Homo sapiens: one gene and its partners. The gene in region 4 interacts genetically with the main gene of each other region. Each region holds a gene or a part of one and is shown on either strand. Other genes may lie near its edges.

Region 1 (7,110 bases), on a different chromosome or scaffold from region 4:
TAAAAAGATCCCTGTGATGACCAGGCGCGGTGGCTCACGCCTGTAATCCCAGCACTTTGAGAGGCCGAGGTGGGCAGATCACCTGAGGTTGGGAGGAGAATTGCTTGAACCCAGTAGGCAGAGGTTGCGGGGAGCCAAGATCTCGCCATGTGCACTCCATCCTGGGGAACAAGAGCGAAACTCCGTCTCAAAAAAAAAAAAAAGATCCCTGTGGCTCTGTGCGTGGAGTAGAGTGGGAAGACGAGAGGGATGACAAATGTCCAGGCAAGGGAGGGTGGGGGCTTGGGAAAAGGTGGAGGTAGCCCACTACCCTCCCCGACTCCTGCTCCTCACCTGTTTTTTGGCCCTGCTCAGCTCCAGGTCAAGTGCTTGGGCCAGCTCCAGCAGCAGGGCACAGGGCACAGCCGAATCCGTGGCCCCTACAAAGGGGGTCGATCCGGGTGGGAAGAGCTTCGAGTCATAATGGCAGGCAAGGGTGAGGTGACGGGCAGCCCTTGGGTCCAGTGTGGCCACCACATTGCCAAAGTCCACTGGCCCCAGGGGTGTTGAGGCTGTGAAGGGATCCAGCTCCACGTGCCAACCTGCTGTCAGGGACCGCAGCGTGGCCTCCAGGAACTAGCGGCAAGAGAGAGGTGGGAGGGTGGACGGGGACTGGGGAGGAGGTGGGGAGAAGGGCCACGTGACCTGAGCCATGCAGAGCAGATGGGTTGACACTAAAGCCCCACTCTGATTGAATGGATTTCTTTCTTTCTTTCTTTTTTTTTTTGAGATGGAGTCTTGCTCTGTCACCCAGGCTGGAGTGCAGTGGCTTGATCTTGGCTCACTGCAACCTCTGCCTCCTGGCTTCAAGTGATTCTCCTGACTCAGCCTCCTGAGTAGCTGGGGTTACAGGCGCCCCCTACAACGCCTGGCTATTTTTTGTATTTTTAGTAGAGATGGGGTTTCACAATGTTGGCCAGCCTGGTATTCGAACTCCTGACCTCAAGTGATCTGCCTGCTTCAGCATCCCAAAGTGTTGGGATTACAGATGTGAGCCACTGTGCCCAGCCCCCTACTCTGATTAAAATCATTCCCTTGACAGTGCTGGTGAGTACCTACTGGGTGCCAGATGTTGGGGAGACCCCACCTCTTGAAGCCAGCAAGACTCATCACAGCTTACCCTTAAATAGCTCTCACTGTGTGCTAAGCCCTCTTCTAGGAACCATTTAGGGGAGGGACTGCCAATACATGACCCCATTTTACAGATGAGGAAATGGGCTCAGAGAGGTTAAGAAACTAGTCCAGGCCGGGCGCGGTGGCTCACGCCTGTAATCCCAGCACTTTGGGAGGCTGAGGTGGGCGGATCATAAGGTCAGGAGTTTGAGACCAGCCTGGCCAATATGGTGAAACCCCGTCTCACTAAAAATACAAAAAATTAGCCAGGCATGGTGGTGCACACCTGTAATCCCAGCTACTCAGGAGGCTGAAGCATGAGATTTGCTTGAACCTGGGAGGTGGAGGTTGCAGTGAGCCGAGATCGCGCCACTGCACTCCAACCCAGGCGACAGTGTGAGACTCCATCTCAAAATAAAATAAAATAAAATAAAATAAAAAAGAAACCAGTCCAAGGTCACAATCTAAGTGGATGAGGTAGCATTGGGACTCAGGCAGTATTTAAGTGACTTTTTTTTTTTGAGATGGAGTCTCGCTCTGTCACCCATGCTGGGGTGCAGTGGCGCAATCTCAGCTCACTGCAGTCTCCGCCTCCTGGGTTCAAGTGATTCTCGTGCCTCAGCCTCCCAAGTAGCTGGGACTACGGGTACCCACCACCACGCCTGGCTAATTTTGTATTTTTAGTAGAGATGAGGTTTCACCATGTTGGCCAGGCTGGTCTCAAACTCCTGATCTCGAGGGATCTGCCTGTCTCGGCCTCCCAAAGTGCTGGGATTAGAGGTGTGAACCACTGCGCCTGGCCTTTAAATGACTCTTCATGCTTTCTGGAAGACAACAGATACATTACAGCACCAGCTCGGAGCCAACCTGTTTGGGTTCAACTCTAGGTCTATGATTTTCTAAACATTGGGTCTCACTAGGTTGACTAGGCTAGTCTCAAACTTCTCAGGTGATTCTTCCACCTTGGCTTCCCAAAGTGCTGGGATTACAGGCATGAGCCACTGCACCCGGCTAAGGTCTACTACTTATTATCTGTAGGATTTGTGCAATGTGTATAACCTCTCTGAGCCTCAGTTTCCCCATCTGCATAATGAAGATCATATTGGTACCCACCTTATAGGGCTGTCTGTTGCCTATGCCTAGCACACAGTAAGCTTTTGGTGGGGGCATTAAGGGGGGCAGTACAGCCTGGTGGTTTGTTACCAGCATGGAGTCTAGAGTCCGATTAACTCCAGTCAGAGCCCCAGTTCCTCCTCTTAGCTTCTTTGGGATCTTGAACAGGATTCTTATTTCCCATTCCCTGGAGGGCTAGGGGGTCAGGGACTGGAGGTGGGTCCCTTTACCTTTCTGACTTGGAGATTTCCCGGGCTGCCCGGGGTTCGCACAACCAGCAGGGGGCGCAGATAAGTGCTCCAGAGACGCTGTGGATCCAGTTGTCCCACCACCCTCCGCAGCCGGGCTTCGGGGAGGCTTCCGATCAATGGGACCTTGGGAAGGAGGTGGGATAGGGAAGGGAAGAATGAGAGCAACCCCCCCATTTCAACCCTACCCCGGGCGCCGTCACCCGCGAGGAGCCCCGGGTTCTCTTCCTAATCTGCCGCCTCCAGCATCGGAGACTTCTAGGATAAATCCAAGGCTCAGGAAAAGTCCTTCCAAGACCATCCGGTCCAGCCTACCTCAAACTTGATGGGGAAATCGAGGCCCAGTGAGAGAGAGGGGAGATGGAGGAAGGGACTCTTCCAAATAGTTGACTAAAGGCGTAGAACCCTGAACCCCCCCGTCTTACTATTTCAGACCTTTCCTCTTAAAAGGAAGCTACTGTTGCAGAACCAGCCCGAAGCCTTATTCCTTTGGTAAGGGTCATGCGCTCAGATGACGAAGACGGTGGCATCTGCGGTTAGGGCCGTACGCTAAAGCCACGTCAACCCTGGGTAACAGCGGGGAGGGAATGAGGGTCCCCGCGGTGCCCGGGTCCCCGCCCAGCCTCACCCGCAGCTCCCGGCCCAGCGGCAGCTCCTCAGTCCTGCGGTGCCAGCCGCTCCAAATGGTGTAGAACGCCGAGCCCACGGCCAGCGCCAGCAACAGAGGCAAGAGCCGAACCCGCGGTAGCAGGCGGCGCTTCGGCGGCAAGAGTGGCTCCATGAGGCCACGTTCCCCCAGCCGCAGGCGGGGTCGCCCGCGGCCCCCGGAACGCATGGCCGCTTTGCCCTGAAACCTGTACCAGACCACGGATTGAGTTTAGGCCCAGCCAAGTTCCTCCCCATGGAATCGGTGGGCCAATAAGCAACAGCTGCGGCTGCACCAGCCCACCCCACAGCGAGCAGCGAAACCAATAAGAACTACGGTCCTGAGGACACGCCTCCCAGCCTCCCTTAGGTATTGGGGTTGGTTCCCCTGAGAATGGCACGACCCAAATGGGAGCGCAAGAGAAGTAGGCTCCGCCTTAGCGGAGGAGGGAAAGCCAATGAACAGCGTTTGATCATGGAAAATATTCGATCTCCCGGGCGCAGGTCCATGCCCCTTCCGGATGTAGGCAGGGGATTGGTGGCGCAGGGTCGGAAAGATCAGTAGATACGTCAGTAACGCGTCCCAGAGGGAAGAGGGGCGGTGCCTGTCTCCGAAGCGAGGAGCGGATTGGCTTCACGGAGGCCGCGCCCCCGAAGTCACGGCCGGCGGGCATTTGGAAATAGCTTGTCATTTCCCTCCTTCAACCTGTACCATTCTTCAAGAAACGGTTTGAATCAGACTGCCTTTCCTTTTGTCTTCATTGTCATAAACATCTGCCCCCGTGTGGTTCTGACTGGCCGCGAACCCCTACCCGAAGCTTTTATTCCATCATTGTGCACCGTTGGTGGGGAATGCTGTGGCAACAGGCCACGCCTCCACTTACTGGTTGGCTTTGCGCAGGCGCCAACGGAAGTGGGTCGCAGGAAGAGGAAGTCCCGCCTCTCTCTCCTCAGGCAGCAGCAACGCGGAGGAAACGGGAGTGAACGGAGAGCGTAGTGACCATCATGTGAGGCCGGGCTAGGCTTAGGCGGCGGGAATGAGGTTGAGGGTGGATATTTGACCGATTGAGTGTGGGAAGGGTTGAGCAGAGCGGGGGGGGCAGGGGCAGATGTTTTAGGGATGCAGCGTCCTGCTTTTCTCCTGATGAGTTTGAGAACGGGCGTGGGGCCTTTGACGCATCGTGACTTCGGGAGAGGGGACAGCTTTATCAGATAACGCCCTGGGCTGGGCGCGGGGGCTCATTCCTGTGATCCCAGCACTTTAGTAGGCCAAGGCGGAGCATCGCTGGAACACAGGAGTTCGAGACTAGCCTAGGCAACATAGCGAGACCCCCGTCTCTACAAAAAAAAAAAAAAATTTAATTATGAAAAACATGTTTTAAACGATAACGGGAGTGGTCCTAGATAATTAGTCCTATTGAAATGAATGTTAAGGGGCAGCGATTTTACGAATACTGGGGGAGGCCGAGCGCGGTGGCTCAGGTTTGTAAATCCCAGCACTTTGGGAGGCCGAGGCGGGCGGATCACCTGAGGTCAGGAGTTTGAGACCAGCCTGGCCATTGTGGTGAAACCCCGTCTCTAACAAAAATACAAAAATTAGCCGGCCGTAGTGGCGGGCGCCTGTAATTGCAGCTATTCGGGAGGCTGAGGCCGGAGGATCGCTTGAACCCGGGAGGCGGAGGTTGCAGTGAGCCGAGATTGCGCCACTGCACTTCCAGCCTGAGCGACAGAGTAAGACTCCATCTCAAAACGAAACAAAAGAAATAAAACGAATAATGGGGGAGGGAAGTTAGGACTTTTAGAAATAATTATTTGAAATAAGGGACTTATCTTGATCATTTGAGCTGGAGACGGGTGCGTTTTCGACTTGATTCACAACTTACACGGATAACGAACGAGTCATTGACATGATTTTGCGCATTTATTAGTGCAGCAGATATTACATTGAATGCTTATGTATCAGACACTGCTTAAGCTACATAGGATACATCAGTGAATGAAACCTCTAGTCCCCAAGGGAAAAGAAAAATCTTTTTCTCTTTTTCTTTTTTTTTTTTTTTTTGAGACGGAGCCTTGCTCTGTTGCTCAGGCTGTAGTGCAATGGTGCGATCTCAGCTCACTGCAACCTCCGCCGCCTGAGTTGAAGCGATTCTCCTGCCTCAGCCTCCCGAGTAGCTAGGATTACAGGCACCCACCACCATGCCCAGCTAACTTTCGTATTTTTAGTAGAGACCAGGTTTCACCATGTTGGCCAAGCTGGTCTCAAACTCCTGACCTCAAATGATCCACCCGCCTCGACCTTCCAAAGTGCTGGGATTACAGGTGTGAGCCACCGTGTCTGGTCGGGGTTTTACTTTCTACACTGAGATGGGGGGAGGATGGGAGGGTTTTCTTTTGTTTTGTTTGTTTGAGATGGAGTCTCGCTCTGTCACCCAGATTGGAGTGTAGTAGCACGAGCTCTGTCTCCTGGGTTCAAGCGATCTTCCTGCCTCAGCCTTCAAAGTAGCTAGGATTACAAGCATGCGCCACCATGCCCAGCTAATTTTTTTTTTTTTTTTTTTTTTGAGACGGAGTCTCGCTGTCGCCCAGGCTGGCGTGCAGTGGCGCAATCTCGGCTCACTGCAGCCTCCGCCCCCTGGGGTTCACGCCATTCTCCTGCCTCAGCCTCCCGAGTAGCTGGGACTACAGGCGCCCGCCACCTCGCCCGGCTAATTTTTTGTATTTTCAGTAGAGACGGGGTTTCACCGTGTTAGCCAGGATGGTCTCGATCTCCTGACCTCGTGATCCGCCCGCCTCGGCCTCCCAAAGTGCTGGGATTACAGGCGTGAGCCACCGCGCCCGGCCTAATTTTTTTTTTGAGATGGAGTCTCACTCTGTAGCCCAAGCTGGAGTGCAGTGGCGCAATCTTGGCTCACTGCAACCTTCGCTGCTGGGGCTCAAGCGTTTCTGCTGCCTCAGCCTCCCAAGTAGCTGGGACTAGAGGGATGCGCCACCACACCTGGTTAATTTGTTTGCATTTTTAGAAGAGACAGGGTTTCACCATCTTGCCCTGGGTGGTCTCGAACTCCTGAGCTCAGGCGATCCACCTCGCGTCGGCCTCCCAAAGTGCTGGGATTACAGGCGTGAGCCATCGCATCTGGCCTAATTTTTGTATTTTCTAATTTGTATTTATTTATTTTTTGAGACAAGAGTCTCGCTCTGTCACCCAGGCTGGAGTGCAGTGGCATGATCTCACTTCACTGCAACCTCCGACTCTCTGAGTTCAAGCAATTCTTCTACTTTAACCTCCCGAGTAGCTGAGATTACAGGCGTGCACCACCACGCCTGGCTAATTTTCTGTTGGTTGTTTTTTTTATTGTTGTTTTGTTTTGTTTTGTTTTGTATTTTTAGTAGAAATGGGGTTTCACCATGTTGGCCAGGCTGGTCTCGAACTCCTCACATCAAGTGATCAATCCACCTTGACCTCCTAAAGTGCTAGGATTACAGGCATGAGCCACTGTACCCATACCCTGGGAGGGTTTTGAAGAGTGACATGTTATGATTTAGGTTTTAGCACAACCCCCTCAGACCACTCTGTGGAGAACAGACTGTCAGGGAACGTGGGTGGAGGCAGAGAGACCAGAAAGATTCCAGGACAGAGATGACAGAGGCTTAGGCCATGGTAAGAAACGGCCATTTCCTACAGATTTCATGTAGGATGTGAGGGAAAAAGAGGAATCAAGTTGACAAAAGAGTTTTTGCCCAGAGAACTAGAAGGATGGAGTTACCATCAAAGCAGATGGGGAACGCTGTAGATAGGGTAGGCTTGGGTGGTTGGGTGATCTGGATCCCGACCTGAGACATGCAGAGTTGAAAATGTCTGGCTGGGCACGGTGGCTCACGCCTATAATCTCAGCACTTTGGGAGGTCGAGGCGGGTGGATCACAAGGTCAAGAAATCAAGACCATCCTGG
Region 2 (7,025 bases), on a different chromosome or scaffold from region 4:
CTTTCTTCAAGTATTTCTGCTAACAGCACCATCTCAGAAGTGAGGGCTATTTGACCACTCTCACCTTCTGGCAATTTTATATCCTCTTTCCCTGTATTATTTTTCCTCCACAGCAATTATTACCTTTTACTATACTACATGATTAATTTCTGTCTGTCTACACTCACCAGAATGTTGACTGTTATATCCCATCCCCCTACCCACTGTCTAGCAAAAACACTTTGTGTCTAAAAGAGAACCTTGCACACAGCAGATGCTCAATATGAACTAAATAAATGAAAGAATGAATAAATGTACCAGGTAAGAATTTAGTAATGAAAAAAAAATAACCACCCTCACAAAATTTCTTGAATTATACTTAGGACTCGACTTCCCACTCTAATTGAATTAATACACCAATGTAGACCACTAAGTAAAGTCAGAGAGAAAATACTGGCAGATTTAATGATGAGAAATGCATTGGAGCCTACAAGATAGAAAAACTCTGGATTACTTCACCATATGAGGGAGCTGAATTATTCTGTTAGATACCTAATTTCTCTTAAGTTTTGAGATTAAGATAAGAGAAAATCAAGCCTATCATTTGAGTAATAATGCAATTTTGAAAAGTACACTGCTCAGAAGTTTAAAAATTTCTGGTACAGTCCCAAACTGAAGACCCACTTTTTTCTTATCTCCTGTTGCTTCAGCTTACTAAGGCAGAGATTACTCTCCATTTCTACACTATATCTGATGTATCTAAATTTTGTTTATATGTACCTACTTTATATGCAGTAGGAAAAAGATTTTCTAAAATAAGATATATTTTGTTCACCAAGCAAAATTCAATTCAGTAATGAGAATGTCATACCTTTTTCCACATGAGTTTTGATCCCAGCTCTTCTCTCCCTGGCTTTCTGGGCCATTTCTCTAAGTTTCTCTTCATGTTTTTCCTTTTCTTTCTGAGCCATTTTTCTCTCTACTTGGGCACGCATTTCCACAGCTTCACGAGCCTGTTGGTAAAGTCACATGTTAAACAGGACACTATCATGGGATAAATATTTATGGCTATCATCCAACTCCCTAACATCTGGCTGGTAAGAGCAATTATACAGAATTCAGATTTGTTATTGCTAATTAAAACAAAGAGTCTTGTCCACTAAAAGATATCCTGCCTGGAAGACACTGCAAGGTCAGCTTTTTTCTCTGGGAATATTTTAGTGATTGAAACTATCGTGACCCCAATTAATCTTGTAAGTCAAGTATTTCACTAATGCTTTCTCAGAAACAATCTAAAGAACAAAATTAAAGCCAGGCATAGTGGCTCTCTCCTGCAATCCTAGCACTTTGGGAGGCCAGGGTGGAAGGACTGCTTGAGCTCAGGAGCTTGGGACCAGCCTAGGCAACATAGTGAGATCCATCTCAAAAAAATAACATTTTCAAAATTAATAACACTTTCAAAGTTAATCAAGTCAACTCAAGATAAAATCTTAACTTACATCTGCTAGATAATTTTTATAAGGGTACTCACTGTGATACAAAAGACATTTTTTTTATGTTCCAAACACATGCTATGATGCATGTGAACTTCAATATCACATATTAATTCCATAATATTTATATTTACATATATTTTTTGAGATGAAGTGTCTTACTCTGCTGCCCAGGCTGAAGTGCAGTGGTGCGTTCTTGGCTCACTGCAACCTCCACCTCCTGGGTTCGAGAGATTCTCCTGCCTCAGCCTCCCAAGTAGCTAGGATTACAGGTGCATGCCACATCCAGCTAATGTTTGTATTTTTAGTAGAGATGGAGTTTCACCACATTGGTCAGGCTGGTCTTGAACTCTCAACCTCAAGGAATCCACCAGTCTTGGCCTCCCAAAATGCTGGGATTATACACATGAGCCATTGTGCCCAGCCTAATTCCATAATATTTAATACATTATGTAACATTAATAGATGGCCAATGCTATGAACGCCATTTTATGTACTATTCAATTCATTAGAATGTTTATCTGCCTTTTCCTGCAACTGCCCTTTTGGGGGACATCTACATCTAAAATAGAGGAAAATTTGAAATCAAAAATTATGAAACCTAGCAATCTTCAAAAAATGGGATCATCCTAGGAAACCATTATTCTGACATGTTGTGAGGGAGCCGGATCACCACTGTGGGGTGTATGTACACATCTACAAAAGCTGGGAGCATGCAGAGAGCTGCCAACTAGCAGCTGCCATTTCTGACACACGTACCATGGGTGAGACTCTCTTTGGGTGCTCGGTACTATAGTTAAATTATCAGTACCTTAGGTAACCAAGAATGGATTTTAAAAGTAACAAGAGCATTAAACAAATTATAACAAACCAACCTTCCGATCAGCAATGTAGAGGGCTTCTGCCAATTTGGCGAAATTTTCATTTATGTGTACTGTCTGTAGTCCTCTTCCATCAGCAGCCAGACGTTTGTCTAATGGAATTGTATAACCCTAGAGTGAAAGCAGACAGAAAACCCAGTCACAGAAGTGCTTCAATTAATCGTCTGAAGTTAAATTAATTTTATTTTTTTCGAGCTGGAGTCTTGCTCTGTCACCCTGGCTGGAGGGCAGGGGTGCCATCTCGGCTCACTGCAACCTCTGCCTCCTGGGTTCAAGCGAGTCTCCTACCTCAGCCTCCCGAGTAGCTGGGACCATAGGCGTGCGCCACACACTCGGCTAGTTTTTCTATTTTTAGTAGAGACGGAGTTTCACCATGTTGGCCAGGATGGTTTTGAATTCCTGACCTTGAGTGATCCGCCCTTGGCCTCCCAAAGTGCTGGGATTACAGGCATGAGCCATCGAGCCTGGCTAAAATTAAATTTAAATATGCCCACATTTTGAGAACCACTTAACTGGAGGTTCTTTTTCCTTGCATCTTTCTTCACAATGATGCAAAACAACAGCAGCTATCAATGAGTGCTTTATGTAGAAGATCAAGCACTTACACCTATGGTCTCATTTAACCTTCACGATAACTCTATAAAGCTTCTAACATTATTGTGTCCATTTCACTGATGCTTTGGTAACATCCCCAAGGTCATACAGTTAGTAAGTGGGCGATTAGGATTTAAACTCAGCAGGATTTCAGAACCCAAGCTCTGGAAAAATAGATATTTGTGTTAATAATTGTCGATTTTAATAAAAGGAAATCACTGTCAAACAGTTCAACAGTTGCTCCTCAAGTAAATTTAACAGTCAAACAAAGGTAGAATCACTATAATCTTAGCATCTATAGGAAGTTAAATCTGCTGTACTGTCTTAATGATCTGTTATATTCTTAGAATCCTGAAGTTTTAGTAAATAGAAAAAAAAGGCTGGGTGCAGTAGCTCAAGCCTGTAATCCCAACACTTTGGGAGGCCAAGGCAGGTGGATTGCTTGAGCCCAGGAGTTCAAGACCAGCCTGGCAACATGGTGAAACCCCGTCTCTACCAAAAATACAAAAAAGTAGCCAGGCATGGTGGGGCACACTTGTGGTCCCAACTACTCGGGAGGCTGAGGTGGGAGGATCGCCTGAGCCTGGGAGGTTGAGGCTGCAGTGAGCCATGATCATACCACTGTACTCCAGCCTGGGCAACAGAGCGAGACCGTCTCAAAAAAAAAAAAAAAAAAAAAAAAAACCAAAGAAAAAAGAAAAAAAAATGTTTGCTAAACAACTGAATTTCTACATTCTAAAACTTTGCATCCCATTTCAATAACTCAAGAACTGTACTTGAATGTCTATGTAACTTTCAGGCTTAGCTTTATTTTCCAGATATCTGACTAGTCTCTCAAATGTTGACTTTTAGTCCATGGTCTCATAATAAAATGAAGCATTATAGAACCAGCTCAAGATACCATCCAGTTACAAAATACCAATCAACTCAAATCAGACCAGTCGGCAACCTCTTTGTTTAGGGTGAGTATATAAATTCTCTTAAGAAACCTGAAATGGTCTTCTTTATCCATCAAAAATAAAATCATGAACTATGATTCAGGGAAGATGAAACAGTAACTAGCAAATCTATCCCACAATCTACAGATTCTTAACAACTCCTAGAAACTTTGGCAATTATTAGAGATATATAGCTTAAGCCTTCACTACTACAGAGCCCAGTAGTTGAATATTAAAGCACTTAAAGTATCCAAGCATTTACTCTGTTCTTTTGTCATATAATCTTTTACATCAGTTTACTTTCTTTTAGAAATAATTTTTAGATATAAATTTGAGTTTTCTAAATACCATCTTGTATTTATATGACACTTTATTCTACTTATTCCTTCTCTATGTGCTTCTGCTAGCTACAATTCACTAAAAGAACTGATATGGGGCCGGGTGCGGTGGCTCACACCTGCAATCTAAGCCCTTTGGGTGGCCGAGGCCGGCGGATCACAAGGTCGGGAGATCAAGACCAACCTGGCCAACAGGGTGAAACCCCGTTTCTACTAAAATACGAAAAATTAGCCGGACGTGGTGGCATGCGCCTGTAGTCCCAGCTACTCAGGAGGCTGAGGCAGGGCAATCGCTTCAACCTGGGAGGTGGAGGCTGCAGTGAGCTGAGATCATGCCACCGTACTCCAGCCTAGTGACAGAGCGAGACTCCGTCTCAAAAAAAAAAAAGGAACTGACACGGTATTCACGTGCCTGGCATACTAACATTTCTATTACATTAAAAAAGTCACCAAATTGGGCATTCCTTTTTGAAAATGCTCAGTTAAACCACGTGTTGTTTCAACTACAGTTATGCAGGCTGTAGTTGTTTTACTGGTGTTTTCCAGTAGGTTATACTAATAGAGACTGATTTGACAACTTAATTACCTTTGCATTTTTCCAGTTAGAAATACAAGGAGGAATCTTCCACTCTTGTTGTTCCTTTACAGTCATCTGAGAGAAGAGGGAAAGAAGAGACAAGTTTAGATTTATAGTCTACAAAGTAAATCTAAGTATAATCTTTATCTTCAAAGACAGCTCCATATACACTGACATATGCACAGCCGTAGTAAAAGGCCAGCAGTCCATTTGTTTGCTAGCACTAGTTTACCATATAATTCTAGTAATAACTTTGAACTAGTGTGAAAAATGGAAAATAATCTAGAAATTATTCTTGACAGTTATAAATGTTGGCTAGTATTTTTCCATATTTAAAGTGATGTGACTTTTTTCTTTTTTTTATTGAGACGGGGTTTCGCTTTTGTTGCCCAGGATGGAGTGCAATGGTGCAATCTTGGCTCACCACAACCTCCGCCTCCTGGGTTCAAGTGATTCTCCTGCCTCAGCCTCCCAAGTAGCTGGGATTATAGGCATGCGCCACCATGCCCAGCTAATTTTTTTTAAAGTAAAGACGGGGTTTCTCCATGTTGGTCAGGCCGGTCTTGAACTCCCGACTTCAGGTGATCTGCCCGCCTCGGCCTCCCAAAGTGCTGGGATTACAGGCGTGAGCCACCACGCCCGGCCGATGTGACTTCTTTTGGATGAAAAATTGTTCTTTTGATTAACAAAACATATCTTAAAAAGTCAAATTACCAGGGACCTAATGAACCCATATATTCACTTCCTATAACATCCTTAAACTGAAACAGCAGACCCTGTCCATTCCATTAAAAGTAGGGTTTGCATTACTAATAACAAAACTTACAGCTAACATGTTATATACATTCTCATAAGCATTCTTGAAACTTCATCTTGAAAAATAAAAAAAGAAACTACAAGTCAGTGTGGTGACATGCACCTGTATAGGCATAGGGAGGTTATCTATAAAATTAATAACCATGAGTAGAAAAAAATATTTTGGACTACAGCAAAGAATACCTTTCGGCTAGGAGAATGCATGACAGGCGCAGGAGGAGAAGGTGGTCCCCGGGGAATTTTCTTATTAATCCTGAAGTATAAAAACACAACCAGAGAGTGATATAGTTTCCTCCCTTTTAGTCATCATATCAAGTCTCTCCTCCTTTTTCTTGCATAAAAGTTTCAAACATAGACAAAAACAGAGACTGTATAATGATATACATTTACCACTCCACTTTGACAATGAATAAAACATGGCCAACTTTGAAACTGTTACTCACCCCACCTCCACAACATTATTGTCATTTTGCAGAGTAATATACTTTTTTCCACTTTAAAAAGCAGCTTTAGGTCGGGTGCAGTGGCTCATGCCTGTAATCCCAGCACTTTGGGAGGCCAAGGTGGGCAGATCGCCTGACGTCAGGAGATCGAGACCATCCTGGCTAACATGGTGAAACCCTGTCTCTACTAAAAATACAAAAACTTAGCTGGGCATTGTGGTACACGCCTGTAAACCCAGCTACTCAGGAGGCTGAGACAAGAGAATCGCTTGAACCCAGGAGGCAGAGGTTGCAGTGAGCTGAGATCATGCCACTGCACTCCAGCCTGGGTGACAGAGCGAGACTGTCTCTCAAAAAACAAAAACAAAAACAAAAACAAAAACAAAAAAAGGCAGCTTTATTGAGATAATTGACATTTATTAGCTATACATATTTAAAGCATACGATTTGATTAAATTTTGACACAAATATGCACCTGTGAAATCATCATCACAAGCAAGATAGTGAACATGTCTATCATCCCCAAAAGTTTCTGCTTGCCCCTTGCCTATTCCTCTTGTCCCTCCCATCTCCTCTCTGTCCCTACCTCCTTCCCCAGAGGCAACCACCTATCTACTTTCTGTAACTATAGGTTAGTTTGCATTTCCTGGAGTTTTAGATAAATGGAATCATACTGTATGTACTTGTTTTTGCCTGGCTTCTTTCACTCAGCATATTGTTTTGAGATTCATCCATGTTATTGTGTGTATTAGTAGCCTATTCCTTTTCACTTACTTGAACCTTGGAGGCTCCATTGGATCTTTCTGCATTTCTACCATCCGAATAACCCTCTGTTTAGCTCCAGAGTTGAATGCCACTCCTTGCTGAGATGGTGTGTATCTGAAGAAAGCAGATAAAAACTAAAGGTGTAATTAGTTCAAGCTTTCAGTAGGTATTTTCCTTCTATTACAATCTTAAGCTAGACTA
Region 3 (6,879 bases), on a different chromosome or scaffold from region 4:
ATCACCAAAACAATGGGAAAAATGTCTCCAGGGCATATCAGAGATCTTCATGGCAGCCCCTCCCATCACAAGACCTGAGGCCTAGGAAGAAAAAATGGTTTCGTGGGCAGCCTCAGAACTTGGGGCCCTGAGTCCCAGCTGCTCCAGCTCCTGGCTAAAAGGGGTCAAGGTACAGCTTGGGCTGTTGCTTCAGAGGGTGCAAGCCCCAAACCTTGGTAGCTTCCACGTGGTAGCTGGGCCTGCAGGTGCACAGAAGTCAAGAATTGAGGTTTGGGAACCTCTGTCTAGATTTCAGAGGATGTACGGAAATGCCTGGATGTCCAGGCCAAAGTCTGCTGCAGTGGAAGAGACCTCATGGAGAACCTCTGCTAGGGCACTGCAGAAAGGAAACGTGGGATTGGACACCGCCCACCCCCCAGAATCCCCACTGGGGCACTGCCTAGTGGAGCTGTGAGAAGAGGGCCACCATTCTCCAGACTCCAGAATGGCAGGTCTACAAACAGCTTGCACTATGAACCTGGAAAAGCCTCAGGCACTCAATGCCAGCCCAGCAGAGCAGCCTCTGGGCCTGAACCCTGCAAAGCCACAGGGTCAGAACTGCTCAAGGCCTTGGGAGCCCACCCTTGGCATCAGCGTGCCCTAGATGTGAGACATGGAGTCTAAGGAGATTAAAATAAGTTTTAAGACGTAATGGCTGTCCCACTGGATTTTGGACTTGCATAGGGCCGGTAGCCCCTTTGTTTTGGCCAATTTCTCCCATTTGGAATGGGAGCATTTACCAATGCCTATTCCCCCATAGCATCTTTAGAAGTAACTAACTTGCTTTTGATTTTACAGGCTCCTAGGCAAAAGGGACTTGCCTTGTCTCAGATGAGACTTTGGACTTGGACTTTTGGGTTAATACTGGAATGAGTTAAGATTTTGGAGGCCTGTTGGGAAGGCATGATTGTGTTTTGAACTGTGAGGACATGAGATTTGAAAGGGGCCAGGGAATCTGGGCGTGGTGGCTCATGCCTGTAATCCCAGCACCTTGGGAAGATGAGGTGGGTGGATCATGAGGTCAGGCGTTTGAGACCAGCCTGGCCAATAGAGTGAAACCCCGTCTCTACTAAAAAATGCAAAAATTAGCCAGGCGCGGTGGCTCACGCCTGTAATCCCAGCACTTTGGGAGGCGGAGGCCGGTGGATAACCTGAGGTCAGGAGTTTGAGACCAGCCTGGCCAACATGGCAAAACCCCATCTCTACTAAAAATACAAAAATTAGCCAGGCCTGGTGGCAGGTGCCTGTAATCCCAGCTACTTGGGACGTTGAGGCAGAAGAATTGCTTGACCCTGGGAGGCGGAGGTCGCAGTGAGCCAAGATCGCGCCACTGCACTCCAGCCTGAGCGACAGAGCAAGACCCCATCTCAAAAAAAAAAAAAAAAAAAAAATTAGCCAGGTTTGGTGGCACACATTTGTAGTCTCAGCTACTCAGGAGTGTGAGGGAGGAGAATCGCTTGAAGTGTTGGAGGTTGTAGTAAGCCAAGATCGCGCCACTGCACTCCAGCCTGGGTGACAGAGTGTGAGACTCCATCTCAAAAAAAAAAAAAAAGAAAGAAAGAAAGAAAGGGGCCAGGGGCAGAATGATACAGTTTGGCTATTCATAATCTCATCTCGAATCTGGTGAGAGGTGATTGGATTATGGGGGTGGTTTCCCCCATGCTGTTCTCATGATACTGGTTTTATAAGGGGCTTTTTCCCCTTCACTGTCTCTCTCCTGCCATCCTGTGAAGAAGGTGCTTGGCTTCTCCTTTGCTTTCCACCATGATTATAAGTTTCCTGAGGCCTCCCCAGCCATGCAGAACTGAGAGTCAATTAAACTTCCTTCCTTTATAAATTACCCAGTCTCGAGTATTTCTTTTGCTTTTTGTTTTTTTTTGAGTTGGAGCCTGACTCTGTCTCCCAGGCTGAAGCTCAGTGGCACGATCTCGGTTCACTGCAACCTCTGTTTCCCAGGTTCAAGTGATTCTCCTGCCTCAGCCTCCGGAGTAGCTGGGATTACAAGCATATACCACCACGCCTGGCTAATTTTTGTATTTTTAGTAGAGATGGGATTTCATCATGTTGGCCAGGCTGGTCTCGAACTCCTGATCTCATATGATCCTCTCTCCTCGACCTCCCAAAGTGCTGGGATTACAGGCGTTAGCCACCAAGCCCGGCCTTGGGTACTTCTTTATAGCAGTGTGAGAACGCACTAATACAGACCCCATTCCAGGAGATGACAAATAGCAAAAGGCAAAATGATACTCCCTTCTTGACTTTTTTTTCCTCTCCCACTTTTATGTCTTTACGTTTCCTCCTACCATCAACTGCCTTTCCTAACATTGTGGTGACTGATTAAAGAAGAAAAAAAGGACGAGATGAAACTACACTTTACAGTACTTTTTCCCCCCACCACTCCAATCCCGAATTGTGAAATTCATTCTTTTCCTGATCCTCTAATTTGTGCAGTAATGCCGCGAGGTAAGGCTGAACCTTTCTAGAGAGCAAGGGCTATCCAATACCAGGAACCTCAGAGTCCTTCCTCAAGCCATTATCTCAGAGCTATCTGATCACTGTGGTCACCATACAGGCAGTCTATTAATGTCAACTACAGCAACACAGTAAGGGTGAGGGGCGGAAAGTGATCTCTGTTTAATTTCGAGGAAGGGTCCAGAGAATTACCATCCAGCTACCCTTCCTCCACTGGTCCCTCGATGTTCTCCCGGCACCTCCCGTCCTCTCTCCGGGCCCATCTGCCGAGTAAGGGCCAGAGAGCCCCCTCCTCCGCTTAAGCCCGACCCCACCAACTTTTCAACCAATACGATACACTCTTTCTTCTCAGGACATAGTCTCAGACTTCATCCCGGCCAGCTCCCTCCGTCCCACTCCTGGAGACTCACCAAGCGGGCGAGGCCACTCCTCTCCGGCGGCAACTCGGACACCCCAACACCGGACCTGGCGCTGCACCCTAGTCGCGCCTGCGCGCGCCGAGCCCGCGCGCCTGCTCACTTCCCGTTCGCCGCGGACACAGACACACCCCTGCAGCTGGAGCCAATCACGGTGCTGGGGGTTTAAATGTCCCTGCCACGCAGACGGAGAGTCTGGGAATTCACTAGTTAACCGGATAGATTTCAGTCCTGCCCGAAGCTGGGAGGTGTTCATGCAATAAACATTTACTGAGGGCAAACCGTATGCCAGGCACTGTGCTGGATGAACGCTGAAGAAAAGAAAGCGAATACAGTGCTTTCCCTGCTCTTCATCGCCTTTCAATATGTCTAGACTAAGATATAGATATGTAAACAAATTATAGTGGATAGAATACAGTGCATAGCACATAGAAAATTTGAGGCGCCTTTGGCTGATAATGAACAAAGCGTTTTATTCTTAGGGGTGTCTGGAAGGGTTCCCGGAGGAAGTGACTTGAGTCATGAAGGATAAGTAGGAGTTCCCCCGGAAATCCGGCAGAGAAAGAGCTAGAGTTTTCCAGGCTCTGGGGAACAGCTTATGTCGAGAACAGCATAACGCCTTCTGGAAATTTCTAGTAGTTCATCCTTGTTAGAGGCTTAGTGCTAATCGTACATCCCCGAGTGTAGAGGAAAGAAAGCTTTAGAAGGCCAACAATCGCTAGATCTTGGAAGGCCTTGGAATTTTAGACCACTTTGTACTAGGGGCACTGAAAGCTATTGAAGAGTTTTAAGCAGATGGAGGATTATTGTAAACTATTTGCTGCAGGAACCCCTCCATGCACCTCTAAGAATAAAATAAACTGCTGGAAATCAAGAAAAGAAAGTGCTTCACCAGGCACAGTGGCTCACGCCTGTAATCAATCCCAGCACTTTGGGAGGCTGAAGCGGGCAGATCACGAGGTCAGGAGTTCCAGACCAGCCTGGCCAACATAGAGAAACCCCATCTCTACTAAAAATACAAAAAATTAGCCGGGCATGGTGGCAGGCGCCTGTAATCCCAGCTAGTCGGGAGGCTGAGGCAGGAGAATCGCTTGAACCTGGGAGGCGGAGGTTGCAGTGGGCCAAGATCATGCCATTGCACTCCAGGCTGGGCAACGAGAGTGAAATTCCGTCCCCCCTACAAAAAAAAAAAAAAAAGAAAGAAAAAATAGCTGGGTGTGGTGGCGGGTGTCTGTAATCCCAGCTACATTACTATCATAATGTCTATCACTGGCGACAGTGCCAGACTCCATCTCAAAAAAAAAAAAAAAAAGTGCTTCAAGGAGTAAGTAGTCTATTCCTAAGGGATCAAGGAAGATGAAGCCTGAGAAATGTTTTTTTTAATTTCATAACACAGAGGTCACTGATTATCTCAGTGAAAGCTGTTTGTTGGAATGCTGGGGTTGAAAAAAACAACTTAGTAGTTTGGAGGTGGGGGAGATGTAGAGATGGGGACAAGTTGTAGAATGCTTTTGGAAAGTTTGGCCTTGACAGGGAGGAAGGAGGGAGAATGATGAAGGATCAAGATTTTTTGTTTTTGTTTTTTTGATTTTTGTTAGAATTAAGACAGGAGAAACTTGAGCATGGTAGGGAAGATTCAACTGAGAAAAAAATGGTTGAATAAAGGAAGAGAAGGGATAGTCAGTAGGCAAAGATCTTGAAAGGGTAAGAATAGAGGCAGTTTAGAGGCAGTTCGAAACACTGGTAAGAATAATGGTTTTGGAAGAGGGCAGGGAGGGAGAAAGAGAGAGAGAGGAGATATTTCCCCAATTATGAGAGGAAGTATGTTTCTGTATGTTTAGTAACAGGAAGTTAAAGTTCTCATTTGCTGACTTGTTTTCTCTGTGAAGTTGAAGATGGGGTCATCTTCTGATAGAAAAGGAGGTGGTATTGGGAGTTTAAAGGAAAGCTGAGAAGATTTGGAATATTGTAGAAAGTAATACAACAAGTTGACAGAAGAATGTTGTAGGACTGGTAAGCAATATTGAGGGCCTTTTTAATATGGGCAAAAATGAACTCACCATTTTCTGCCCTCCTGTGTAAATTTCTCAAGCAGCAGTCACTTGTTGAGGGCAGAGGTGGAGAAAATGTATGGTTGAGTTCATTAGTTCATTTAGGGTTGTGATGGTCATTGATATAATTCCGTGGTTCTCAACCAGGGACGATTTTGTCCTCCGGGGGATATTTGGCAATGTCTGGAGATGCTTTATTGTGATGACAGGGAAACGGGGGTGGGTACTACTAGCATCGTGTCCAACAGTGCTGCTAAACATACATACACACACACGCACACACATATATGTATATATATATAGAGAGAGAGAGAGAGAGAGAGAAGGTCTTGCTCTGTTGCTCAGGCTGGAGTGCAATGGTGTGATGTCAGCTCACTGCAACCTCTACCTTTGCAGCTCAAATCCTCCCACCTCAGCCTCCTGAGTAGCTGGGACTACAGGTGTGCACCACCACTGCCGGCTAATTTCTGCATTTTTTGTAGAGACACGGTTTCACCATGTCACCCAGGCTGGTCTCAAACTCCTGGACTCAAGCGATCTGCCTCCCTTGACCTCCCAAAGTTATAGGATTACATGTGTGAGCCACTGCTCCCAGTCTGCTGCTAAACATCTTATAATGCACAGGATACCCCTGACAAAAAAGTATATGTTCCAAAATGTCAGTAATCCCAAAGTTGAGAAACCATAATCTAGCGTTACCTTGGCACTCACCAATATCTGACTGTGGTCTTCTACAGGCTTTTCCCTGAATGATGGCCCAGAGTTTATAGGGTAAAATAGTTCCTCCATTGCATGCCTTTGAAGGAGAATAGAATGAGCAGCGTACCACAACCCTTGAGTGTTTCAAGGACTTGTGATGTCACAAACACGGAATTGGAAGTTTCCTAAACCTCTAGAACAAATCTGGATTTACATAGAAGAGGTTAATATAGCCGCTTCCTTTCTTTTTTCTCTCTCTTTTTTTTTTTTTTTTTTTTTTTGAGACGCAGTCTCGCTCTGTCGCTAGGCTGGAGTGCAGGGGCGAGGTCTCGGCTCACTGCAACCTCCGACTCCCGGGTTCAAGCGATTCTCCTTCCTCAGCCTTCCGAGTAGCTGGGACTACAGGCACGCACCACCACGCCCAGCTAATTTTTGTGTTTTTAGTAGAGAAGGGGTTTCACCATGTTGGCCAGGATGGTCTCGATCTCTGGACCTCATGATCTGCCCACCTCGTCCTCCCAAAGTGCTGGGATTACAGGCGTGAGCCACTGTGCCCCACCGCTGCTTACTTTTATTTGAGACGTTGAAGGTCTTGTTAAACAGAGATGTTATAATCTCAATAATATAGGAGGGACACTCCACATAATTATCAACCTGAATGTCATTTCATTTATCTGATAGTCTTAGTCACTAAAATTAGGTTTCTGAGGGAATGGGTATGGGCTAAGTTTAATAATAAATATAGGCGGCCGGGCGCGGTGGCTCACACCTGTAATACCAGCACTTAGGGAAGCCGAGGTGGGCGGATCATTTGAAGTCAGGAGTTTGAGACCTGCCTGGCCAATATGGCGAAACCCCATCTCTACTAAAAATACAAAAATTAGTTGGGCGTGGTAGTGCACGTCTGTAATTCCAGCTACTTGGGAGGCTGAGGCAGGATTATCGCTTGAACCCGGAAGGTGGAGGTTGCAGTGAACCAAGAGAGCGGTTCTGCACTACAGCCTGAACGACAGAGCAAGACTCCATCTCAAAATAACTAACTAACTAACTAACTAAATAAATAAATAATAAATGTAGGCTGGGCGCGGTGGCTGACACCTGCAATCCCAGAACTTTGGAAGGCCAAGGCAGGCAGATCACTTGAGCCGAGGAGTTTGAGACCAGCCTGGGCAACATGGTGAAACCCCGTCTCTACTTAAAAA
Region 4 (7,118 bases):
TATTCATGTTACCAAGTAATGGGCTTATTATTTTTAAATGAATACATTTTAAAAAATTGTTTTAATTTCCAATACGGTAAATATTAATAAATCCCAAACAAATCAAAGATTTTTTTTAATCCTGGATTTTTTTTTTCTTTATAACAAGGTCTCACTATGTTGAGTACGCTGGTCTCCAACTCCTGGCCTCAAGCGATCCTCCCGCCTCAGTCTCCCAAAGTGCTGGGATTACAGATAAGAGCCAATGTGCCCGGCCCCTTCGATAATTTTTAAGAGTGTAGGCCGGGTGTGGTGGCCTGTAATCCCAGCACTTTGGGAGGCTTAGGCGGGCGGATCACCTGAGGTCAGGAGGTCGAGACCAGCCTGGCCAACATGGTGAAATCCCGTATCTAAAAATACAATTAGCCCGGTGGCGGGAGCCTGTAATCCCGGCTACTCGGGAAGCTGAGGCGGGAGAATCGCTTGAGCCTGAGAGTCGGAGGTAGTAGCGGGCCGAGATCGCGCCACTGCATTCCGGCCTGGGTGACAGAGTGAGACTCTCTCTCTCAAAAAAACAAAGAGGGTAGAGGGGTCGTTAAGGCCAAAAAGTTTACTAGCCTAGGAAATACTGTGGACAGACATTGGATTAGAGTTTGTGTATATATATGAATTCAGAGCCACATGTATCTTCCGGTTTACTTGTTTATGCGGTGGTTGTTTCCAGAAAAAAAAAAAATTCCTTGAATGAGATTTTTAAAACCAAATCACATTTAAATCCACTAGAGAGAACTGGGTTCCAAAGGAGTCTTACCAAATGAAGATCATGGGCTGGGAGGGGATCCCTCACCGAGAGTTAGAAAAGCTAGTAAGGAGTGGACTGGACTCGAATCCAACAATTTTGTAATGGAAGAAAATTCATTTTTATTTTTCATAAAACTGAATTACCATCTACCATCTCTTAAAAGCAAATATACTGTGGATGGCTACAGTCTCAAAGTAAACTATTGTTAGCAACCATATTTGATATCTGTAGTCTATAACATGCAGAGTCAGCATTTTGGACCTCAGTCACTTCAGTGACACCAGTTTTATGGTTAATTCTGAGCTGATAATTACAAATAGACCTTTCCCATTTATAACTTATTTGTAAAATGATTTCTATTATAAACATAACATATACATTGTATAACAATTAGAAAACCTGTCTGTTTTGATGGATCTCAAGATTTAAGAAGGCTTAGACTTCAGCTATAAGATGCACATGCCACTGTGGGAGGCCGAGGCGGGCAGATCACGAGGTCAGGAGTTCTAGACCAGCCTGACCAACATGGTGAAACCCCCGTCTCTACTAAAAATACAAAAAATTAGCCGGGCATGGCAGCAGACACCTGTAATCCCAGTTATTCGGGAGGCTGAGGCAGGAGAATTGCTTGAATGCAGGAGGCAGAGGTTGCAGTGAGCCGAGACGGCGCCACTGCACTCCAGCCTGGGCAACAGAGCAGATGGAGACCATCCTGACCAACATGATGAAACTCTGTCTCTACTAAAAATACAAAAATTAGCTGGGCATGGTGGCGTGCACCTACTAGTCCCAGCTACTCGGGAGGCTGAGGCAGGAGAATTGCTTGAACCCAGGAGGCGGAGGTTTCAGTGAGCCGATACCGCGCCATTGCACTCCAGCCTGGGCAACAGAGCGAGACTGTGTCTCAAAAAAAAAAAAAAAAAGGAGATGCACATGTTTAAGTCTATTTCAGGCGGTTAGCTGGTGGATTGCTACAATTCCTCTGTAAGTTTAAAAAATCATGTAAGTGCTGTTTTGGAGTACTGTAATAACTCTTGAGATGTAGAACACATCTGCAAAATGAGGGTAGTATAAAAGAGACGAGGGGATGAGGGTAATACATAAGAAATAGGGGAAAGGACAAGAACAGGTAAATTAAACTTCAAGTACTATTTTTGCTATTGCTGTCTACACTCAACTAGCAAGGAAAAAGCCTTGCTTCTGCTCTGCGGGTTTTCTTCGGGTTTAACTTGACCAAGCAAAACAGACCATCTGGGATTAACTTTTTCCTTTTCACTGTAGGTCACAGGCTCTACGTGTAGGGTGTTGGCCACCTGTTCTTCCACCATCTCTACCTCCACCTCCTCCTTTGTGGCCACAGCAATGTCACAGCCCATACATGGGGGAGGGGAGCATTCAGGAACTCGGAGGCAGATGCATTTTTTTCCAAACACAATAACCTCAAACAGTGGTCTCTAAGCACTTTCCTATGCTCTTCCAAAACGTGACCTCCCCTCTTACTCACACATCCCCTACACACGGAAAAGGACCACTATCCGTCCAGCCTGCGCTCGAGGGAGAAGTTTATACCTTCGTCCTAGAGATGCCAAATGCAGCAGGGAAGGCTGGACCGAGGCAGCCGAGTGCTGGAAAGGGAGGCAAGAGGTGCGGGAGCGGGGAGAGGGGGAGGGGAGGCCGGGGCGCCGCGGGAGTAACCTCCACCGCACCCCACCGCTCCGAGGGGCAGCCGGCCCGGCCCGAGTTTCTCCCCAGAAGCCTCCAGCCGCGGCTCTCGGGGAGGAGGAAGGAAGGGGTTCCCCGTCCAGGAAGCAGCACCAGCGGCGACCGCCTCCAGCCTCACCCTCCTCAGCCCCGCACCGCCCATTCCTCACTCCCCGCGCCGCCGCGTCCGCGCGCCTCCCCCCTGCAGACCCCTCTCACCCAGCCCGCCCCGACCCCGCGCCCGCGCCCCCCACCCGCCCCTCCGGGGACCCCTAATTCATTCACTCGCCGCCGGCCCCGCCCGGCGCCGGCAAAGAGGGTCGGGACCCGGGCAGGGGCCCAGGAGGGGTGGTCCGCTCCGTACCTCTCTCCCGCACCTGGGAGCCGCTGAGCCTCTGGCCCCGCCGCCGCCTTCAGTGCCTGCGCCGCGCTCGCTCCCAGTCCGAAATGGCGGGGGCCGGGAGTACTGGCCGAGCCGCCGCCACCTTCGCCGCCGCCACTGCCGCCGCCGCTGCTGCCTCCGCCGCCGCGGCCGCCGCCTAGGAAAATCGAGCTCCGAGCACACCGATGAGTTCGGGGCCGGGCGGCCGCAGAGGGCAGAGCTATCGATGCGTTCCGCGCTCGATTCTTCTTCAGACGGGCGTACGAGAGGGAGCGGCTGAGGGCGGTGTGGGAAGAGGGAAGAGGGGGAGGCAGCGAGCGCCGGCGGGGAGAAGGAGGGGGCCGGGCCGGGCCGGCGGGGGAGGAGCGGGGGCCGGGCCGGCGGAGGAAGGGGTGGCTGGGGCGGTCTAGGGTGGCGAGCCGGGCCGGCTGGAGAGCGGGTCTGGGCGGCGCCTTGGCGGGAGGAGGGACTGCCGGACCCACGCGGCGGCCCGCCCCCTGCCTAGCCGCAAGGCTGTCCCCGCAGCCGCCAATTCTGACCCGGAGCGGGACCGGACCGCGGCGGGCTGTGCGGATGCCACCAGGGAGACGCCGCGAGCGGCCACGCCGCCCCGCTGACCGGTCTCCACAGAGAAGCTGCGAAGAGCACCCCGCCACCCTCAGGGTCGGCCTATACTGGCGCGCATCCATTTACTATCATTGACTGCATGTAAATAAACAAGCAGTCACCAAAAGTGGGAGGCGACTTCGGGGACTTAGGGAGACCGGGCGGACGATTTCCCACACCGGGGCTGTCTGATCGCCGCCCCGATTATTATCAGCCTCAGCACTTGGGCTGGGAATTTAGCCCCAGGCCCAAACAAACACGACAGACCCTTTCAACGCTAATCTTCTCGGGTCAGGAGGCTTGTGATATTTTGCTATCTTTCTTGATATTTTGAACCCATCACAAGGTCTCTAAACAGGGACTTCGCTTATACCCAGGGCCCCTGAAATCACAAACAAAAGACAACTGTTTTTAAGTAGAGATGGCCTTGGTAGTTTAGACCTGAGGAGAGTCATTCAAACATTAATTAGAAGACAGATTAATCAGTTAAAGTTCGTGGAGTTAAGACATTAAACAATGGGGCAATTAAACATGCTAGCATACCCGGAGTCTGTGTTGATAAACTACCTAGAAATGTATCTTGGGAGAGTCTTGAGGATTGAGGGCTGGAAAAGCAGCGCCTGTACCTGATAGGATCGCCCCTCCTCCGAGACTTTCAGTTCCATTCCTCTAGTCCACATCATAAACCACCAATAAAGCTGAATTTAAATCCCAGCTATTATGTCTGTTAACCAAGGCTTTACATCAACTGTCATCCTTTCCTTTCTACTCTTACACGGGCTGTAATCTGCAAGGTTTATTCCAGTCTCCCCCTCCTAGCGCCAGGTGGAAGGGGCAGAAGAGAAAAGTGAAAGACAGGGAAGGGGAGAAAATGTGCCTACTCTATGTTAAGTACAAGCTAAATCTTTTGCACTTATCGTATCATCTTATTTAATCATCACGACAACCTTATGAGGTAAAATACTTTTTACCGTTTTACAAATGACGAAACAGATTTAGAGGTTAAAACGTTGGCACAAGTTCACATAGTTAAAAAATGGAGTATACTTCATGTCGGATCATAGTCACTCTACTCCCAGATCATCAGTGGCCCTCATTCCACTTGACATAAAAGCAAAATTCTTCTCAAAAATCCTACATGGCCTTAAATTATTTGATATCCCCTACCCTCTTCTCTGAACTCTCATCCTACTGTTCTCCCTTCCTTACTTACGTAGATAAACATTGGTTACTGGCTGTTCCTTGAAAATGCCAGGCAGGCGTCTTCCTCAGGGAATATGCACTTGCTACCCCTCTGGCACCTCATTTAAATCTTTGTTCCAAAGTGTTTTTAAAAGGAGATCTTCCCTAAAAAGATCATCTTTGATACTGTAATTTCGCCCTTGTCCCAGATCTGTCTCTTTTCCTACTTTTTCTCCAGAGCTCTCATCACCTTCAATAATACACTATCTATTTTGTTTTCTTGTCTCTCTACCATCAGAATGTAAGCTCCATGAGGGCATGGGTTTTGGTCTGTTTCATTTACTGCTAAATTTCCAGCACCTAAGACAGTCTCTGACACAAAAAGGCATTCAATAAATATTTATGGAATGTTGAATGAGTGAATCTGTGGACCCTCTGTGGATTCTAAATCCTAATCCATGAACTCTGTGACTCTAAATCTTTACTTTAGACAGAGTGTCTTAAACCTCCTGTCAATCTCTGTCTTCATCTTAACAAAATCTGCTTTGAAACTTAGGTCACCTTCTGATAAGCCACATTCCGTGCAGCTCAGAGATACTTATCTCGTACATAATAGACACAAGGAATTCTTAAATGAATGAATTTGCGCTTATGTGTATGCTACTTTGTGGTCACTCAAGCATAAATCACAGATTTATTTTGTACAACATCAAGTGCATGATAAGTTCTTGTTTCCTCTTACAGCTGTGAATATGATGTTCTTCCTATAGTTGATGTTCCATACATCTTAAAAGGACTATAATATAGAAGAGGGGAAAGCTTTATATAGCACTTTTATGCTGATTATAAAAATTCTGGCATTAGCAGAAACCTAATCCATCCACATGGTCTCAGTTATCATCTAGGCTCATGATTCGTAAAGCAAATCTGCATCCAACCATTTGTTCCACGCACCCCACACTCCAGTTTTACCTCAGACACTTTCTCTTTCCTTTTCACTTCCACAGCAATTTATACATATGGTATGTCAGGTCTTTCTGCCGTTCAGTCCTGGGTACTTTCTTAGAAGCCGGCACCACCTCCTTGCAACATTACCTTTCTTTCCTTAACATAGAGGTCTCAAGGGTAAATGCTTTAGGAATCACCTGCCATGCCTACCAAAAATGCAAGTTCCTAGGCCCCTCACCCAGATATTTTATTCAGTTGGTCTAAGGTAGACCAGTAATCTTCATTTTTAGCAAATCAAATGATCCTAAACTGGTAGTTCACTGTGTGCACATTGAGAAACTCTGATGTAGATATTCAAATTCTTGGCACCTGCACTTTCTACTGTCTTCAGGGGTTCCTCTTTCTCGAGCCTGGTGGCTCCCTTGAACAGTCTCCCTGGCTCTCCCTTCCCTTGCTCTCTCCAAGGACAAGCACACTGAAGTAGCCTGTGATCACAATGGGAAAGGGGGGAGGAAATAAAAAGTATAAGCATGGGGATTCCAGGCCTGCTCTCAGCTACAACTGAAGTTTCTACCCTCTACTGTCAGACTGTCCTGGGAAGGCAGCCACGTACAAAGGTGTGCACGTACATACCCTTTTTATCTGCTGTACAGATAAAAGACCATACTGACCCTTTCTTTCACAAGAAACCCTCTTCTGCAGATAGAATTAAAGCCAGAACAACAGGAGTACCCTTATGTTACCTGGGCTCTTAGAAAAAAGGTATAAAATGCTAGGACACCCTCAGAGCACTGCAAATGCTGAGGATTTACTTTAAGGCAATAAGGACACTTTAAAAAACCCTATCATCAGGCGGAGAGCTGCTGTTCAGTCCAGCAATCAACTGCACTTGTGAGCCAGCAACAGGCTGTGGGGCCCTGCTCATCCCTTCATTAACAAGTATCCATTGCCTATGACTCTAGTAATTTTGCCATTCTCATAAATCACCATCTGTCCACTGCTTTTTCATGTAGTCTTAGCTTCTACTGCTATCTGTGCTTCTAGTGGTCACTCTCTGTGACTAACATTCAAAGCATTCCAAGAGAGAAGATCTGGCCATGTCTGTCATTCACTGTTCAATAGGAAGGGCCTTTATGGGACACAATTTTCCTGATTGGTGGCTGGCCTTCTTTATGTCTGGCTAAAAGATTATTGTGTTTGTTTGTGTGTCAACCCTGGGTCCAGACGGTTGTGGCCAGAGTAGCAGGACGCAGAGCAGGGGAACTTGAGCAGGAGGAGCCATCTACGATGCTTTCATGGACTCTACTTCAGCACAACCTTTTGACTCTGGCAGGAATTTGAACACATGAATGGGTGCTGCTTAATTCACTTACTCTGCACTTTATCCTTACTGGACACTTATTTCATTATACTTTGTATACCTTTTTTGCAAATATGTTTTCCCATAACTGCTTTACTAGGTTGTAAATTATTCCAGGCCCATTTCTTTTAATTCTATGTTTTCATAGTTCTTAGCAC

The links.
Region 1: changes in KRAS (region 4) and SNRPD2 are lethal when combined (synthetic lethality), as found in Homo sapiens cells (3 studies listed by BioGRID, with this or other methods).
Region 2: changes in KRAS (region 4) and SNW1 are lethal when combined (synthetic lethality), as found in Homo sapiens cells (3 studies listed by BioGRID, with this or other methods).
Region 3: changes in KRAS (region 4) and SNAP23 are lethal when combined (synthetic lethality), as found in Homo sapiens cells (3 studies listed by BioGRID, with this or other methods).

What each region holds. Positions count from the first base shown.
Region 1 is NC_000019.10:45,688,942-45,696,051, reverse strand, and holds the start of SNRPD2 (small nuclear ribonucleoprotein Sm D2), read left to right. Parts: upstream 1-4,098; 5' UTR 4,099-4,163; coding exon 4,164-4,165; intron 4,166-5,384; exon of another isoform or gene 5,385-5,480; intron 5,481-6,704; exon of another isoform or gene 6,705-6,819; intron 6,820-7,110. Other genes in the region: QPCTL (glutaminyl-peptide cyclotransferase-like protein), read right to left, coding at 334-615, 2,496-2,639, 3,142-3,348. UniProt on the Homo sapiens protein: Plays a role in pre-mRNA splicing as a core component of the spliceosomal U1, U2, U4 and U5 small nuclear ribonucleoproteins (snRNPs), the building blocks of the spliceosome.
Region 2 is NC_000014.9:77,730,138-77,737,162, forward strand, and holds part of SNW1 (SNW domain-containing protein 1), read right to left. Parts: intron 6,939-7,025; coding exon 6,834-6,938; intron 5,870-6,833; coding exon 5,800-5,869; intron 4,876-5,799; coding exon 4,810-4,875; intron 2,465-4,809; coding exon 2,348-2,464; intron 993-2,347; coding exon 851-992; intron 1-850. UniProt on the Homo sapiens protein: Involved in pre-mRNA splicing as component of the spliceosome. As a component of the minor spliceosome, involved in the splicing of U12-type introns in pre-mRNAs.
Region 3 is NC_000015.10:42,491,756-42,498,634, reverse strand, and holds the start of SNAP23 (synaptosomal-associated protein 23), read right to left. Parts: upstream 3,002-6,879; 5' UTR 2,922-3,001; intron 1-2,921. UniProt on the Homo sapiens protein: Essential component of the high affinity receptor for the general membrane fusion machinery and an important regulator of transport vesicle docking and fusion.
Region 4 is NC_000012.12:25,247,905-25,255,022, forward strand, and holds the start of KRAS (GTPase KRas), read right to left. Parts: upstream 3,026-7,118; 5' UTR 2,847-3,025; intron 1-2,846. UniProt on the Homo sapiens protein: Ras proteins bind GDP/GTP and possess intrinsic GTPase activity. Plays an important role in the regulation of cell proliferation.